Homo sapiens: one gene and its partners. The protein of the gene in region 2 purifies or fractionates together with the protein of the main gene of each other region. This does not show direct contact. Each region holds a gene or a part of one and is shown on either strand. Other genes may lie near its edges.

The links. The genes of interacting proteins can lie anywhere in the genome.
Region 1: the proteins of MADD (region 2) and NXPH3 purify together in Homo sapiens (co-immunoprecipitation; one large-scale study listed by IntAct). This does not show direct contact.
Region 3: the proteins of MADD (region 2) and MTMR4 purify together in Homo sapiens (affinity purification with mass spectrometry; one large-scale study listed by BioGRID and IntAct). This does not show direct contact.
Region 4: the proteins of MADD (region 2) and TC2N purify together in Homo sapiens (affinity purification with mass spectrometry; one large-scale study listed by BioGRID and IntAct). This does not show direct contact.

The regions. Positions count from the first base shown.
Region 1 is NC_000017.11:49,578,871-49,581,598, forward strand, and holds part of NXPH3 (neurexophilin-3 precursor), read left to right. Parts: coding exon 1-430; 3' UTR 431-2,728. UniProt on the Homo sapiens protein: May be signaling molecules that resemble neuropeptides. Ligand for alpha-neurexins.
Region 2 is NC_000011.10:47,282,805-47,287,962, forward strand, and holds part of MADD (MAP kinase-activating death domain protein), read left to right. Parts: intron 1-8; coding exon 9-165; intron 166-1,373; coding exon 1,374-1,477; intron 1,478-1,570; coding exon 1,571-1,761; intron 1,762-2,136; coding exon 2,137-2,390; intron 2,391-2,646; coding exon 2,647-2,786; intron 2,787-3,628; coding exon 3,629-3,730; intron 3,731-5,158. UniProt on the Homo sapiens protein: Guanyl-nucleotide exchange factor that regulates small GTPases of the Rab family. Converts GDP-bound inactive form of RAB27A and RAB27B to the GTP-bound active forms.
Region 3 is NC_000017.11:58,511,839-58,515,937, forward strand, and holds the start of MTMR4 (phosphatidylinositol-3,5-bisphosphate 3-phosphatase MTMR4), read right to left. Parts: upstream 2,801-4,099; 5' UTR 2,570-2,800; coding exon 2,525-2,569; intron 1,104-2,524; coding exon 1,014-1,103; intron 669-1,013; coding exon 552-668; intron 1-551. UniProt on the Homo sapiens protein: Lipid phosphatase that specifically dephosphorylates the D-3 position of phosphatidylinositol 3-phosphate and phosphatidylinositol 3,5-bisphosphate, generating phosphatidylinositol and phosphatidylinositol 5-phosphate.
Region 4 is NC_000014.9:91,857,537-91,861,036, reverse strand, and holds part of TC2N (tandem C2 domains nuclear protein), read left to right. Parts: intron 1-3,500.

The DNA.
Region 1 (2,728 bases), on a different chromosome or scaffold from region 2:
GACGGTGGCCCTGAACCTGCTCGTCACAGGGAAGATTGTGGACCATGGCAATGGGACCTTCAGCGTCCACTTCCAACACAATGCCACAGGCCAGGGAAACATCTCCATCAGCCTCGTGCCCCCCAGTAAAGCTGTAGAGTTCCACCAGGAACAGCAGATCTTCATCGAAGCCAAGGCCTCCAAAATCTTCAACTGCCGGATGGAGTGGGAGAAGGTAGAACGGGGCCGCCGGACCTCGCTTTGCACCCACGACCCAGCCAAGATCTGCTCCCGAGACCACGCTCAGAGCTCAGCCACCTGGAGCTGCTCCCAGCCCTTCAAAGTCGTCTGTGTCTACATCGCCTTCTACAGCACGGACTATCGGCTGGTCCAGAAGGTGTGCCCAGATTACAACTACCATAGTGATACCCCCTACTACCCATCTGGGTGACCCGGGGCAGGCCACAGAGGCCAGGCCAGGGCTGGAAGGACAGGCCTGCCCATGCAGGAGACCATCTGGACACCGGGCAGGGAAGGGGTTGGGCCTCAGGCAGGGAGGGGGGTGGAGACGAGGAGATGCCAAGTGGGGCCAGGGCCAAGTCTCAAGTGGCAGAGAAAGGGTCCCAAGTGCTGGTCCCAACCTGAAGCTGTGGAGTGACTAGATCACAGGAGCACTGGAGGAGGAGTGGGCTCTCTGTGCAGCCTCACAGGGCTTTGCCACGGAGCCACAGAGAGATGCTGGGTCCCCGAGGCCTGTGGGCAGGCCGATCAGTGTGGCCCCAGATCAAGTCATGGGAGGAAGCTAAGCCCTTGGTTCTTGCCATCCTGAGGAAAGATAGCAACAGGGAGGGGGAGATTTCATCAGTGTGGACAGCCTGTCAACTTAGGATGGATGGCTGAGAGGGCTTCCTAGGAGCCAGTCAGCAGGGTGGGGTGGGGCCAGAGGAGCTCTCCAGCCCTGCCTAGTGGGCGCCCTCAGCCCCTTGTCGTGTGCTGAGCATGGCATGAGGCTGAAGTGGCAACCCTGGGGTCTTTGATGTCTTGACAGATTGACCATCTGTCTCCAGCCAGGCCACCCCTTTCCAAAATTCCCTCTTCTGCCAGTACTCCCCCTGTACCACCCATTGCTGATGGCACACCCATCCTTAAGCTAAGACAGGACGATTGTGGTCCTCCCACACTAAGGCCACAGCCCATCCGCGTGCTGTGTGTCCCTCTTCCACCCCAACCCCTGCTGGCTCCTCTGGGAGCATCCATGTCCCGGAGAGGGGTCCCTCAACAGTCAGCCTCACCTGTCAGACCGGGGTTCTCCCGGATCTGGATGGCGCCGCCCTCTCAGCAGCGGGCACGGGTGGGGCGGGGCCGGGCCGCAGAGCATGTGCTGGATCTGTTCTGTGTGTCTGTCTGTGGGTGGGGGGAGGGGAGGGAAGTCTTGTGAAACCGCTGATTGCTGACTTTTGTGTGAAGAATCGTGTTCTTGGAGCAGGAAATAAAGCTTGCCCCGGGGCACTGGAGTCAGAGTTGTCCAAGGAAAGGGCCTCAGGCATCCCTTGGTCCAGGAAGAATTTCTCTGATGGCCGCAGGACATTTGCTTGAGACCCAAGTGGCAGGGATCCAACCGCCCTTGGCGCTGATGTTTGCTGAGGGCTCAGGGCTTCCCTCTCCAGCCCCGGTTCCAAGCTGTCTGATCCCCCACGAGGAAACTTGAGCAAACACCCTGGGCTCGGTGCTGGAGGAGGGCGTAGCATCTTCAAGAACAGCTCAGGGAGGGAGAGCTAGCAGGTAGAATGGGCCAATGAGGGTGTTCCTTGGTGTCCTCCCTGAACTGCCATCTGCAGACCCAGCAGGGTCCTAGCCCCGTCATTTTGCTGCGTGGCCTTGGCCATGTCCATTCTCCTCTCTGGCTTTCTTTCTTTGTTTCTTCCTCTATGACATGAAGGGCTTGCCCAGACCAGGGGTTCTCAAACGCGGATCACCCAGAGGGTTTGTTAACACACAGATTTCTGGGTCCTACCCACATTTCTAATTCAGCAGGCCTGGGTGGGGCCTAAGAATTAGAATTTCTAACGAGTGCCCAGGTCTATGCTGATGCTGCTGCTCCAGGGCCCATGCTGGGAGACCCACTCAAAGGACCTTGAAGTTCATCTCTGGCTATGGCTCCGCAGGAGGGGGAGACACCTCGGATGTGATTTCCCAGCTGTAATTTCCATCTGCTTCTCCTGGGGAAGGGGCCTTTCAGAGAATCGGGGCTATTGTATTGGATTTTCAATCTGACCACATGCCAGTGAAGGAACAGGCTGGAGTGGGGTGTGGACACAGGGCCTGCGTCAGTCACTCCCCTCCTGCAGCTAGTAAGAGGCCTCAGAATGGCCAGCTGCCAGTGGCACCTTGTCTGGGAGTTAGTTGGGCCCTTTGGGACTCTGTGAAGGGAAGACACTACCAAGGTCACAGTGCCTTCTGGAGGTCATTCTAAGTCGGCTCTCTTGGGAGGGCAGCACTCAGGGCCCTTTGGGCCCTCTTGAGGAGAGGAGAGTCCTGGCAGTAAGGTAAGATGGGCTTGCCACCCCCCACCTTTCGCCCCTGCCCACCAGCGCTCCGCGCAAACTGGTCCCCTCATACTGCAGCGCAGAGTTGGGTGGGGCTGAGAAGCCATCTGGTTACAGCCCACCTTGTAGGAAATGACCCAGCTTGTTTCCCCCACATCATGCTTCCAGGGGCCGTCTCTCCTGAGTGGAGATGTGAGACACAC
Region 2 (5,158 bases):
TGGGGTAGATATGTTTGATCCAGCCCTGATTGGTGACAAGCCAAAGTGGTATGCTCATCAGCTGCAGCCTATCCACTATCGCGTCTATGACAGCAATTCCCAGCTGGCTGAGGCCCTGAGTGTACCACCAGAGCGGGACTCTGACTCCGAACCTACTGATGATAGGTGAGCATCCTTAGGGCAGCAAAAAGGTTTTAAAGGTGAGGAGGCTCTCACTAGCCCTTCTTTAGCACAGAGAAGGCAAAGTCTCATAGGCTTCCCATATCAGTGTTTTTAATTTTATTTTATTTTATTTATTTATTTTTTTGAGACGGAGTCTCGCTCTGTCACCCAGGCTGGAGTGCAGTGACGCAATCTCGGCTCACTGCCAGCTCCGCCTCCCGGCTTCATGCCATTCTCCTGCCTCAGCCTCCCGAGTAGCTGGGACTACAGGCGCCCGCCACCACGCCCGGCTAATTTTTTGTATTTTTAGTAGAGATGGGGTTTCACCGTGTTAGCCAGGATGATCTCGATCTCCTGACCTTGTGATCTGCCCGCCTCGGCCTCCCAAAGTGCTGAGAATACAGGCGTGAGCCACCGCGCCCGGCCTTATTTATTTATTTTTGTATGTATGTGACAGAGTCTTGCTGCTCTGTCACGCGGTCTGGAGTGCAGTGGTGCCGTCTCAGCTCACTGCAAGTTCTCCCTCCCAGGTTCAAGTGATTCTCCTGCCTCCGCCTCCCAAGTAGCTGGGACTACAGGTGCTGCCACCTTGCCTGGCTAATTTTTGTATATATATATTTTTTGAGATGGAGTCTTGCTCTGTCGCCCAGGCTAGAGCGCAGTGGCGTGATCTGGGCTCACTGCAACCTCCGCCTCTCGGGTTCAAGCGATTCTCTTGCCCCAGCCACCCGAGTAGCTGGGATTACAGGCACATGCCATCACGCCCAGCTAATTTTTTGTGTTTTTAGTAGAGACAAGGTTTCACCATGTTGGCCAGGCTGGTTTCAAACTCATGCCTTCAAGCAATTCGCCTGCCTCGGCCTCCCAAAGTGCTAGGATTACAGGCGCGAGCCACTGCACCCGGCTACTTTTTGTATTTTTAGTAGAGATGGTGTTTCACCATGTTTGCCAGGCTGGTCTCAAACTCCAGACCTCAGGTGATCCACCCGCCTTAGCGTCCCAAAGTGCTTGGATTACAGGCATGGGCCACTGTCCCGGCCCCCATATCAGTCTTTATGCTTTGGTTGACTGTTTTTCTTGGCTTCTTTATTTGATTTGTTCCCTGGCCTTGAGTTCGGAGTGCTCCCCCTTTTATTTTTCCTGGTGCTGATTGTAGGTGTTCTCCCTGCCCCTTTCTGTTTTGTTTGTTTTTTATGCACTTCACTCTGCAGTGGCAGTGATAGTATGGATTATGACGATTCAAGCTCTTCTTACTCCTCCCTTGGTGACTTTGTCAGTGAAATGATGAAATGTGACATTAATGGTGATACTCCCAGTAAGTGTGCTTGGGGAGATTGGCCAGCCCTGGGCAGGGGTTGGGGGCCCAAGGATGGAGTGGTCTGTACCTGCCTCCCTTGGATTTTGGCAGATGTGGACCCTCTGACACATGCAGCACTGGGGGATGCCAGCGAGGTGGAGATTGACGAGCTGCAGAATCAGAAGGAAGCAGAAGAGCCTGGCCCAGACAGTGAGAACTCTCAGGAAAACCCCCCACTGCGCTCCAGCTCTAGCACCACAGCCAGCAGCAGCCCCAGCACTGTCATCCACGGAGCCAACTCTGTAAGTGAGGAGCGGTGGATGAGTGAGAACCATGGCCTGGGATGTGGGCCTCATCTATTAGGAAAGCCAGGCTGTAGCTATTCATTTGCTGCTTCTCACACAATTTTCTCATCTTCCTCTTCATGGGCCCTAGAGCTTAGAGCCTAAGAGACCTACTTTTGACCCCAAAAGGAGGTCATCAGGCTTTGTTCAGGGTACAGCTATGATCCCCCTTATATAGTTTGTGGGGACAGAGAACGGGTGCTACAGAGATCATTTCCCACACATTCCTTAGGCTAGAAATCTGACAGGCCTGGTCCAGCCCTGCCAAACTGGGATTACAGGAAGGTACCATTGGGCACCAGGTAACCACTTTTAATTTCATGCGGCCTTTAGGAACCTGCTGACTCTACGGAGATGGATGATAAGGCAGCAGTAGGCGTCTCCAAGCCCCTCCCTTCCGTGCCTCCCAGCATTGGCAAATCGAACGTGGACAGACGTCAGGCAGAAATTGGAGAGGGGTCAGTGCGCCGGCGAATCTATGACAATCCATACTTCGAGCCCCAATATGGCTTTCCCCCTGAGGAAGATGAGGATGAGCAGGGGGAAAGTTACACTCCCCGATTCAGCCAACATGTCAGTGGCAATCGGTGAGAGCCTGGGCATCCCTTCTAGATGGGTGACTGAAGGACCTCACCTCAGTGGACCCTGGGCAAGGGTTAATCAGAAAGTCTGAGAAGTCTGAATGCTCTCGTGGTCCTGCCATCCCCAGAGGATGGTGTTCTGATCCAGGGGCTTAGGAATTACGGGAAGGGAGTGGCAACTGTAGTATAGCATAATTATGGCCCATACTCCCAAGATCAGGTACCCCTGCCTGGGGATCATAGGTGCCTCTGTGCATTCAAGGGCTCAAAAGCTGCTGCGGCCCAACAGCTTGAGACTGGCAAGTGACTCAGATGCAGAGTCAGACTCTCGGGCAAGCTCTCCCAACTCCACCGTCTCCAACACCAGCACCGAGGGCTTCGGGGGCATCATGTCTTTTGCCAGTAAGTGCCTTCAGCTGTCTCTCTCACTCCTGTGTTCCATTTTCTCTACAGCAGAGCCTGACTATGGCAAATGTTGCTTAGAACTTCACATGTAGGGCTAGGTTGGCATTAGCAAGCCCTAATCCAGTCATTTGGGTGATACTGAATAAGGCGTTTTCAAGTGAGGTCAGTAAAGGACAGGGACAGATTAGTCATTATGCCTGGACATTTCAGTCTATTTCAGGTAAGACAGCTGGATGGGTAACTGGAAAACAGGCAGTAAATTCAAAATCACACACTTGTACTTATATTTTGTGGAAATACTCTGGTCAAATTTGATTTGAGTCCATATCTGGTATCTTCTTTGCCTCATAACGGACTCTTCCATGAATGTGCTTTGAAATCGATATGAGATTGAATTTTGTGCTTAGATAGTATTCCCAGCAGTGCAGGGTCGTATCAGCTAAAGATTGAAGACAGACCATGGACTAGAGAGAGCGAACGTAGAGGATCCCTGTGATTGTGAGTTTCTTCAGCAGCCAGGGAGGGACAGTGCCAGCTTCAGACCAGAAGCCTGTTAACTGCCAGCTTTCATGCTGTGTAGCAGTGGATGAGAGACTTGGATATTATCATGTGAGGTGGACAGAGAAAGCTGTTACTGGGTTTTGGCTGATCCTGGCAGTGGCTCCATTGTTTGCCTGGAGTTAGACTTGATCCTTTCTAAGACAGATCAGAGATGATCTGATCCACCAAACTGGGATTGTGTTTGAAAAGGAGGGAGGTGCAGATGCTGATAGTCATTAGTCTACTGCTTTGATTACTTACTCTGCCAAGTCATCGCTCTTGCACCCTCCCCTTGATAGGCAGCCTCTATCGGAACCACAGTACCAGCTTCAGTCTTTCAAACCTCACACTGCCCACCAAAGGTGCCCGAGAGAAGGCCACGCCCTTCCCCAGTCTGAAAGGTAACTACAGCCTTCCTTTTGCCAAGCCAGGTTTCTCCGGGAGATGTTTCGGGCTGTGGGTTCATGTCAGGAGCCCTGCATCTGCTGAATCCTTTGACCTGGTTGTCGTCCCTCATGTTGCTCCTCATGGCTTTCACCGCACATCCTGGGCTCTGATGGTTGTCAGATGGAAACCATCTTTGTAGCTAGAGACGGCCCTGTTATGTCATTTAGGACAATGGCAACTGTGGGATTACTGCTGCTTCGCGGGAGGACCCTGTCAGGGTATATGATTAACATAGGGATCATCAGCTGCCCCCAGTCGTCTGCTGGGTTGCCACTGCATGAACTTAGGGCAAATTCCGTGCCAAGGAGCTGGCCCACCAGAGAATGGTTATGGAGAGCCTGGCAGCGTTCATAGAGCACAGCCTCTCACCTCTCACGCACTCATAAGCCTGTCAACCCAGGGCTTAATGAGTGCGCCAGGTAGTATTGGTTAGTTTCTAGGGGCAGTTAAAACCTTATGTGAAAGCCAGGCGCGGTGGCTCACGCCTGTAATCCCAGCACTTTGGGAGGCCGAGGCGGGTGGATCACGAGGTCAGGAGTTCGAGACCAGACTGACCAACATGGCGAAACGCCGTCTCTGCTAAAAATACAAAAGTTAGCCATCTGGTGTCACGCACCTGTAATCCCAGCTACTTGGGAGGCTGAGGCAGGAGAATCGCTTGAATCCAGGAGGCGGAGGTTGCAGTGAGCCGAGGTCGCGCCACTGCACTCCAGCCTGGGTGACAGAGCAAGACTCCGTCTTAAAAAAACAAAAAACAAAAAACGAAACCTTATTTGAATTGGTTTGTGCTATCTGACAGTTTCAGGGGCTTTTCTGAATTTGATTTTTTATTTTTTTTATTTTCTGAGACAGTGTCACTCCGTCACCCAGGCTGGATGGAGTGCAAGGTGGTGATCTTGGCTCACTGTAACTGCCGCCATCCAGGCTCAAGTGATTCACATGCTTCAGCCTCCCGTGTAGTTGGAATTATAGGCACATACCACCTCGCCTGGCTAATTGTTGTATTTTTAGTAGAGACGGGGTTTCACCATGTTGGCCAGGCTGGTCTTGAACTCCTGACCTTGAGTGATCTGCCCACCTTGGCCTCCCAAAGTGCCAGGATTACAGGTGTGAGCCACTGCACCTGGCCTGATTTTTTTGTTTTCTCTGGATGGTATGACGAAATATTTAACTGTGGTAGGAAGTGCAGTGAGAAACATGTATTTTTTTTTTTTTTTTTTTTTTTTTGAGACAAGAGTCTCGCTCTGTTGCCCAGGCTGGAGTGCAGTGGTGCAATCTTGCCTCACTGCAAGCTCCGCCTCCCGGGTTCACACCATTCTGCCTCAGCCTCCTGAGCAGCCGGGACTATAGGAGCCTGCCACCACGCCTGCCTAATTTTTTGT
Region 3 (4,099 bases), on a different chromosome or scaffold from region 2:
CCAACAATGCCACTGTGCTCCTTAGAAGGGCCAGTAATAGAATAATGGAAAGAGAGAAGAGGAGAAAGGAGAATGAGCCAGAAACAGAGCTAGGAAAATGAGGCAGGAAAACATGAGGTCAGAGAGAAACAGAAGGGATCCCCAACTTTTTTTTTTTTATTTTTTTGAGAGGTAGTCTCACCCTGTCACCCAAGCTGGACAGCAGTGGCACAATCTCGGCTCACTGCAACCTCCACCTCCCAGGTTCAAGTGATTCCCGTACCTCAGCCCCCGAGTAGGTGGGATTACAGGTGCGCACCACCAAGCCCGACTAATTTTTGTATTGTTAGTAGAGACACAGTTTCACCATGTTGGCCAGGCTGGTCTCGAACTCCTGACCTCAAGTGATCCACCCGCCTCGGCCTCCCAAAGTGCTGGGATTACAGGCGTGAGCCACTGCGCCCGGCCTCCAACTTTTTTAATGACATGATCAAGGACAGCCTTGGAACAATCCCACCTTGAACTTCATAGGGATTCTAGCTTAGGGGTAGGAGAACAATACAGAAACTCACGTTGATGACAGAGTCCTTGAATTTGATATGCAGCCGGTAGTTAGAGATGGCAATGAGGGCATCGGCTGCCCGGCCCAGGAACTCTACTCCCTCACCCTGCAGCACTGTGAAGGGGACCTGTCAAGGGGCAGAGAAACCTTCAGTCCAGAAGTGAGTGACCACCTTATCCTCTTCTACAGCCCCTGATCTGTGGGATCCCCTCTGGAAAAGGTGGGCCAAGGCAAGAGAGGAGAGTTCTCTCCACGGTAACAGCACCAGGCAACAGCTGTACAGGAAAGCTGCCTTTCCTTCCCTGCGGCCAAAGGCTCCAGGATGCGCAGACAAACCCTCCTCCTCCAGAGACCAGGGAACATGAAGCCAGAGCTCTGGTACCAGATGCCCTTGAGGATTTTTGGGAGAAGGGAGGGTGTTTTTTAACTGGGCAGGGAGCCCCATCTATCCTGGCCCCCAACTCCTCCTTACCTGAAGATTCTCTTCCTCCTTCACTAGTTCCTTGGGGGGGAACAGATCCTTGGCTTGGATGTACTCCAGGCTGGGGGGCCCCTCCTCACCCTGTAGGAAGGCCACAGTCCTAAGTCACCAAGCTCCACTTAGCCCATCAGGCTCATTCTGCTCCTCTCCCCACCAAGAAATCCACAGATACCCACACACACACACCTCTAAAGGTTCTGGTCACCAGAGAAGGGAAAAGAGATCTGACTTGGTTGGAGACAGGGAAGGGTGAAATGGAGAGCATATCAGCCTATTAAGCCTAAGGAAAGAGTGAGGCCCCAGGAGGAATTGGGAATCTGCACTCTTCAAAGAGGGACTCTCCTATAGAACCAACATTTCAAAAATGGAGGAGAGAAAACTAAGGAAAAGAAAGACTCTTTCCCTTAGACCCGCATAAGGGTAAGGCAGGAGTGGGGATGGGAAAGTGCTGTCCTGAGGAAAAGGAGCCAGGTATGGCAGCTGGTTTCAGAGAGAAGGGAAATCAGGCGCCTACAAGCCACTGAAGCTTCAATCTGGTGGGTGAAGGAGACAAAGAGGAGTGGGTGGGGGGATTCAGTCCCACGCCTCTAGAGGGCCTTCACCGACGCTTTCAAAAGGAAGACGTGTTTGAGAGCTGGGCTTATCTTCTTGTTAGACCCACATTGCTGACAAGCCCCCATTACCTGCCAAGTAACCTGCTCTGCCTGCTAATCAGAGGGGAATTCCTGAGGAATACCCACAGCAAGCAAAAGGAACTCCCCTCCCAACCACCAGGGAGGGGACCCGGGGGGATCCACGCGCCTGGGAGGAGCCAGGAGACCCAAGGACAGCCAGGGGAGAGAGAGAGAGGAGGCCCGGCAGACACCCACGGGGAAGGTGGGGGGACAGCTGAGAGGACAGATGGGGGAAGCTGGGAAGGAGCATCAGCCAGAGCGGGAGGAGGGGAGGACCGGGAATGATGCAGAGGTACGGAACCCTGCAGAGGCAGGGAAGATGGAGAAGAGAGGCTGTCTGGGGGACAGTCAAGGAGAAAAGGCTGGCATGCCAGGTGAGGGATGGAATGGTGGAAGAGGGAAGGGACTGGAGCCCCAAGCCAGCTCAAAGACATCCCGTGCTCCCCGACCAACCTCCTAACATCCCATTCAGCCTACTAGCCACATCCCACATCCCCAAGCAAGGATTCAGCGGGTGGGACCAAGAGGGAGAGGCGGAGGTAAAGGGATGTACCCCTGCAGGGCGGGGCCTAGAGATCTGCAGTCAAGGGCAGTGGCTGCGGGGCCAGGATGGACCACAGAATTTCCATTCCTGGCCTTCGACCATCTCCGGCACCCAAAGATTGAAGCAAGTCCAAGAAATAAAAGGGTTAACCCACCTTCCCTGCCCCCCAAACGTTCGGGGCCGGGCCAGGGGCCTCGGGAAGGGGGATGGGCTGAAATCGAGGGCTGACCCTGGGCGGGGCTGCGGGTGCCTCCTAGGCCCCCAAAGGCAGGGTGGGCACTTACGAAGCAGCTAAGCATGGAGCAGGAGACGCGGGCGGTCAGGCTCATGGTCGCGGGCGGTCTGGGCCAGCGCACATGTCCCCGGAGCCGCTGCGCTGCCCGCCAGCCCCGGGCGCCCGCCGCATCCCGGCTGCGGGGCTCGCCAGGTGCAGCCGCGGCGGCCAAGAGGCTAGGGCGCTGGTGGCCGGGCCTCCGCGCGGCTCCCGCGCGCCTCTCCCCTCCTCTCCACAATGGAGCGGGCCCAGCTCCGCCCTCCCGCACGAGTGCAGAAGGGAGGGGAGCCAGGCGAGGGGAGAGCCCGGGACCGCGGCGGGAAGGCGGAGGTAGAGGCGGGGCGGCTCCGCGGGCCCCGCCCACAAGCCCAGCCTCCTCCCTCCCCGCGGACCCTGGGCCTCGTAGGAGGGCGTACCCTACTCCAGGGACCTTTAGGAGCTTTCAGGAATCTGGGCTACGGGACCGCCCACATCTTCTCATTTCCCTTCTTCTAAGGTGAGCCACCCCATGCCCTCTTACAAACCCATCCCCGCGCCCCCTCCCCTAAGTTCCCCCGACGCCTGCTCTGGATCCCAAGGTGGAGCTCACCTACCCGCACCCCATTTGCTTCCTCCTTTCCCTCCAAAACCACTACCCACCATGCCCCTGCCCATCAGGGTCCTTCAATCCCGTGACTTCGTTAAACCTTTCTTTCCCCTTAGAATGGTGCCAGGTTAGTCATTCCACGCTCCTGGAAAGGGAAATGAGCTTTTTATTCCAACGCCCCTACCCAACCCTACTCCTTCAGCTCCATCTCTCCCTTGTTTCACATTCTGATCTCTGGGTAAGAAAGCCCTTCTTGGAGGAGAAAGGATTTCTTAGTCTGGGAAAGTGAAGAGCTAGAAGTATCGACCACAGAAGCTATACAAAAAAACGAAACTTGAAACCCAGGAGCAGCGGAGTAGAGAGAGTTGGGTAGAGGGCCAAGGAATAAGGACCAGGAATAAGGGGCTCAAAATGTCACCAAGAGTCACAGAGGGAGGTGGCTGGAACCCCAAACTTCCTGCACCTTGTAACTTTCAGACACCAGGGCTTTTGTCTTGTTTGGGGGAGAAGGGAGTAATAAAAGAAAACCTGACATTTTATTAAGCATCTACAATGAGCCAGGCAGTTTCTAACATTATCTCAGTAAAACTTTTCAAGCCCCAAGAAGTAAACCTTATCCTGTCTTACTCGTGAGACTCAAGCTTAGAGAGAAAGTATGTAATTTAACTAAGTGGTGGTGCTAGGATTTGAAATTAGATGAAGCTGACTGTGAAGCCCATGCTCTTTTCAGGGTAGCCCAGAAGAGAAAAAGAGGAGCTATCTGTTGGTGGGGGCCAAAACCAGCAGGCTTTCTGAGAAGAGACTGAACCAATAGTGCACACACCAAATCCACATGTCTATGGAAGGAAGGGAGGGAAGGAGGAAATCCTCTCATCTACTGAATTCTTTAACCTGCCCCTAAGCACAAGGGACACCTAAAAGACACCGAAGAGATACTACCAGGTTAAGGGCCTGGTCTGGGCCAGGGCCTACAGCTCTCTAGGCCTTTCCCATCTCACT
Region 4 (3,500 bases), on a different chromosome or scaffold from region 2:
GATGCTTCTGTTCTTCATGTAATCTACAGCAGAGAGGCTGGGAAAAACTGAAGTTTCTTTAAATACAGGACAGTGCAGTCTCCAGAGGCCAGAGCCTCTTTGCCAGTCACAAAGAACCCTTAATTGCCTTGTAAAATGTAGTCCAGCCCTCTTCACAGATTCGCAGATTACAGAGTTATTCATCCAAACAATTTCCACGTACTGCATAGAGGGTTTCATGGACAGTAGCCTTGATTCAGACCAACCTGTATCTCTGCAACCCTCACTACAGACCACTTTTTCACAGTGGAGTTGCTATTTGGCTATGGCTTAAAGGATGACCCAGAATTCCTCAAGCATAGAAAGAGGGGAAGGGCAGTAAGAAGACCAGTGTGGTTGGAACAGAGGATACAAGGATGTGTGTGTGTATGTCAGGAAGGGATAAAAGTTGAGGCTAGATTATTCACAAGACTATTCACCTAGTTGAGTTTGGACTTCATATTGTGCAGGTCAGCATTTCACAGAAGACTAGCCCATGAAGATGCTAATCAATGCTCCAAGATCAAGGAGCTCACTTGTTTAATAAGTTGGGGATTTGAATGCTGAATCCCCTTTTTAAAGAGTCACAGTTGATTTTAGAAAACTGAAGGCTCTGAGAAGTCCTGCAATGAAAAGAAAACCTGCTTAATTTTGTATAAAGGTTAATCCAACTTTTTTTTTTTTTTTGCAAGGAAATGATTTCCCCCCTTCCCCAGCCCCCCATAACAAAACTTAACATCTCCAGGAACAATTTTCCTTGGAGTCTGGAATTGCTGCTGTCTGCTATGGGAAGCTGTGGTGAGGTTTTAATTTTGTTTTGATTTTTAATTAGGGAAGACACATCATCTTGTTTTCTACTTTGGAAATGGTGTATGGAGGGAGGGGAGATGAGAATTAAGAAAAATAATTGCAGTTGTTCACATAAGAGACATTATTTCTAAAGCGATCTTTCTAAAGAGTAAGACTGACTAGGTCCTTAGTTAGAACCCTACTGACATTCCCTCTGCCCACAGGTTAAGATTCAAACTCCTGAATAGGATTGACAAAACCTTCCGTGATCTGGTTCCTGCCTGCTGCTCCAGTTCCAGCTCCTACCACTTTCCCCTCCTTTAGACCAAATTCTTGGAGAAACAAACACATCCCCAACAAACCAGAATGGCTTATGTACTCCCTCCAGCTGCTCCTGTCTGAGCTCTTCTCATTGGCTGGAATGCAGTTCTTCTCTTTGCCCATTTGGCAAATGCCTATTCATCTTTCCACAGAGATCAGCCTCTCTAGGAACTTTCCAGAGCCATCCCTGACCTCTGTGGTCTGTGCAGCCCACCAAGCCCCCACCCCTGTGTAGAGGGAGTCACTTCTGCTGTATTACCAGTGCCCCTGTGGTGTAGTTTCCACCTGGGGTTCTAAATGCAAACTCCTGCATGATACTATTTGTGTGTTGTTCATAATGTAGACTTACAGCCTAGCACAGTGCCTGGCCCATAGTAGGTGGTCAGTGTCAATAGGTTGAGTAGAATGTGATGATGGGAAAATGCAGAGAAGGGGAAAGCTTCAGGAGAAGTGGAATGGGTGGAATCAATAGGTCTTGGTGATTGATCGGGTACGGAGGCTTAGGGAGCCAAGGCACACCCTGAGGTGAGCTAAAGACCTCAGGAGGAGGAGTTTTGGTAGAGGGGAAAGGTGAATGTCATTTTAAACTTACTTCTTTTTTTTTAATTTTTATGTTTTGTTAAGGTAAGATTTACATACAGTTAAATGCATAGATATTAATTACACAGCTGGACAAATAAAACATGCTGAATTGAAGATGGCCACATTTGGGTGAAGGTATTGTGAAGATGGCCAGCAGTGTGTATGAAAGCACAGAGTCTGGTGCTAGAGACCGAGCTCTGGGGTCCTTGTGGGAAGTGACACCAGGTGCAGATAAGGTGACCCCTTGCGGTGAGAAGCTCCAAATATCCCAGTATCCCGAGGTGGCTCCAGATACTGGGATATCTGGAGCTCTCTCACTAATCACTAGGATGTTTTCATCTTCGTTTGGCTGTTTTCTGCTTTTGTTTTGGCTGGGCTGGGCTTCCCTCTTGTTGTTTGGGCTATTAAAGGATCAGAAACTATGCTGGCGAGTAGAAGGGATATGGAATGGGATGGCCACAGTTAATTGGGAACATGTGTAGAGGACCCACTCTTTGATCTGCATAACCACGCTTATGAGAGCAGTTTCTTCATCCACTCGCAGGGGGTCAGTCCATCACTTCCTGAGTGAGTGACAAAGCTCCTATCCCTGGTGACTAGGGCCACCACACACAACAGATGAGGAAAGAAATTCTAAGATAAACAAAAATGACTCATAGCATAATATGAAAACTGAAACGTGCATTAACCAAGCTATCTCTGCATCCTGAAGCAGCAGAGTCATTTGCTAATGAACTCATTAGGAAAATAAATGTTCTCAGTTGGAGGTTAGCATTCATTTACCCCAAAGTATACTGCATTTAATTAAAGGTACAGGAAAAATTTTCCTGGCCAGAGGAGTTACGGTGATGTGACAGGAAGATCCTTGTCTGAAAGTCTAGACATCTTTGGTTCTTTGTCCAATTCTCTCTGCTGTGTGACCTAGGGCAAGTCATCTGGCCTCTCTGAGCCTCAGATCCTTCTTTTGTAACCTGCTGAAGATGTCGATGTCAACCCTGAATCCTGTATTTACTCAACTTCTCAACAAATATTCTTGGCTGGGAGTGATGGCTCACGCCTGTAATCTCAGCACTTTGGGAGGCTGAGGCAGGTAATTGCTTGAGGCCAGGGGTTTGAGACCAGCCTAGGAAATATAGTGAAACCCCATCTTTACCAAAAAAAAAAAAAAAAAAAAGAAGAAGAAGAAAGAAAGAATCAGCCAAGCATAGTGGTGCATGCCTGTGGTCCCAGCTACTCAAGAGGTTGAAGTGAGAGGATCACTTAAGCCCAGGAAGTTGAGGCTGCAATGAGCCATGATGGCACCAATGCATTCCAGCCTGGGCAACAGAGTAATACCCTATCTCAAAAAACAAACAAACAAAGAACAACAACAACAAAAACCCAAATATTCTTCAAGCTTCTACTCTGTTCTGGGCACTGAGCTGGTTAAATATCCCTGCATGAACACTTTTTTGCTGTGGTCCCTGGCCAAACAGCTGTTACTCCCAATTCAATGCATGGCTCTGTTCTTTATGCCAAACTTGGAAAAGTGGGCTGGGTACCACTCTGGTTCTTTAGAGGAATTTTGTTGTGGTTCAGGCGACTGTACATCATAGTGCGAATCTGTTGCCAATAGTGGAAGGAATGCTGGGATTGGAGTTGAATAGACCTGAATTTGGGTCTCAACCCTGCCACTTACTAGTTTGTGACCTGGACTAATTTACTGAGGTTCTTTGAGCCTCACTTTTCTCATCTGTTAAATGGGGATAATAATACCGGCTCCAGTTGTTTTGAGAAATAAGATGATGTGT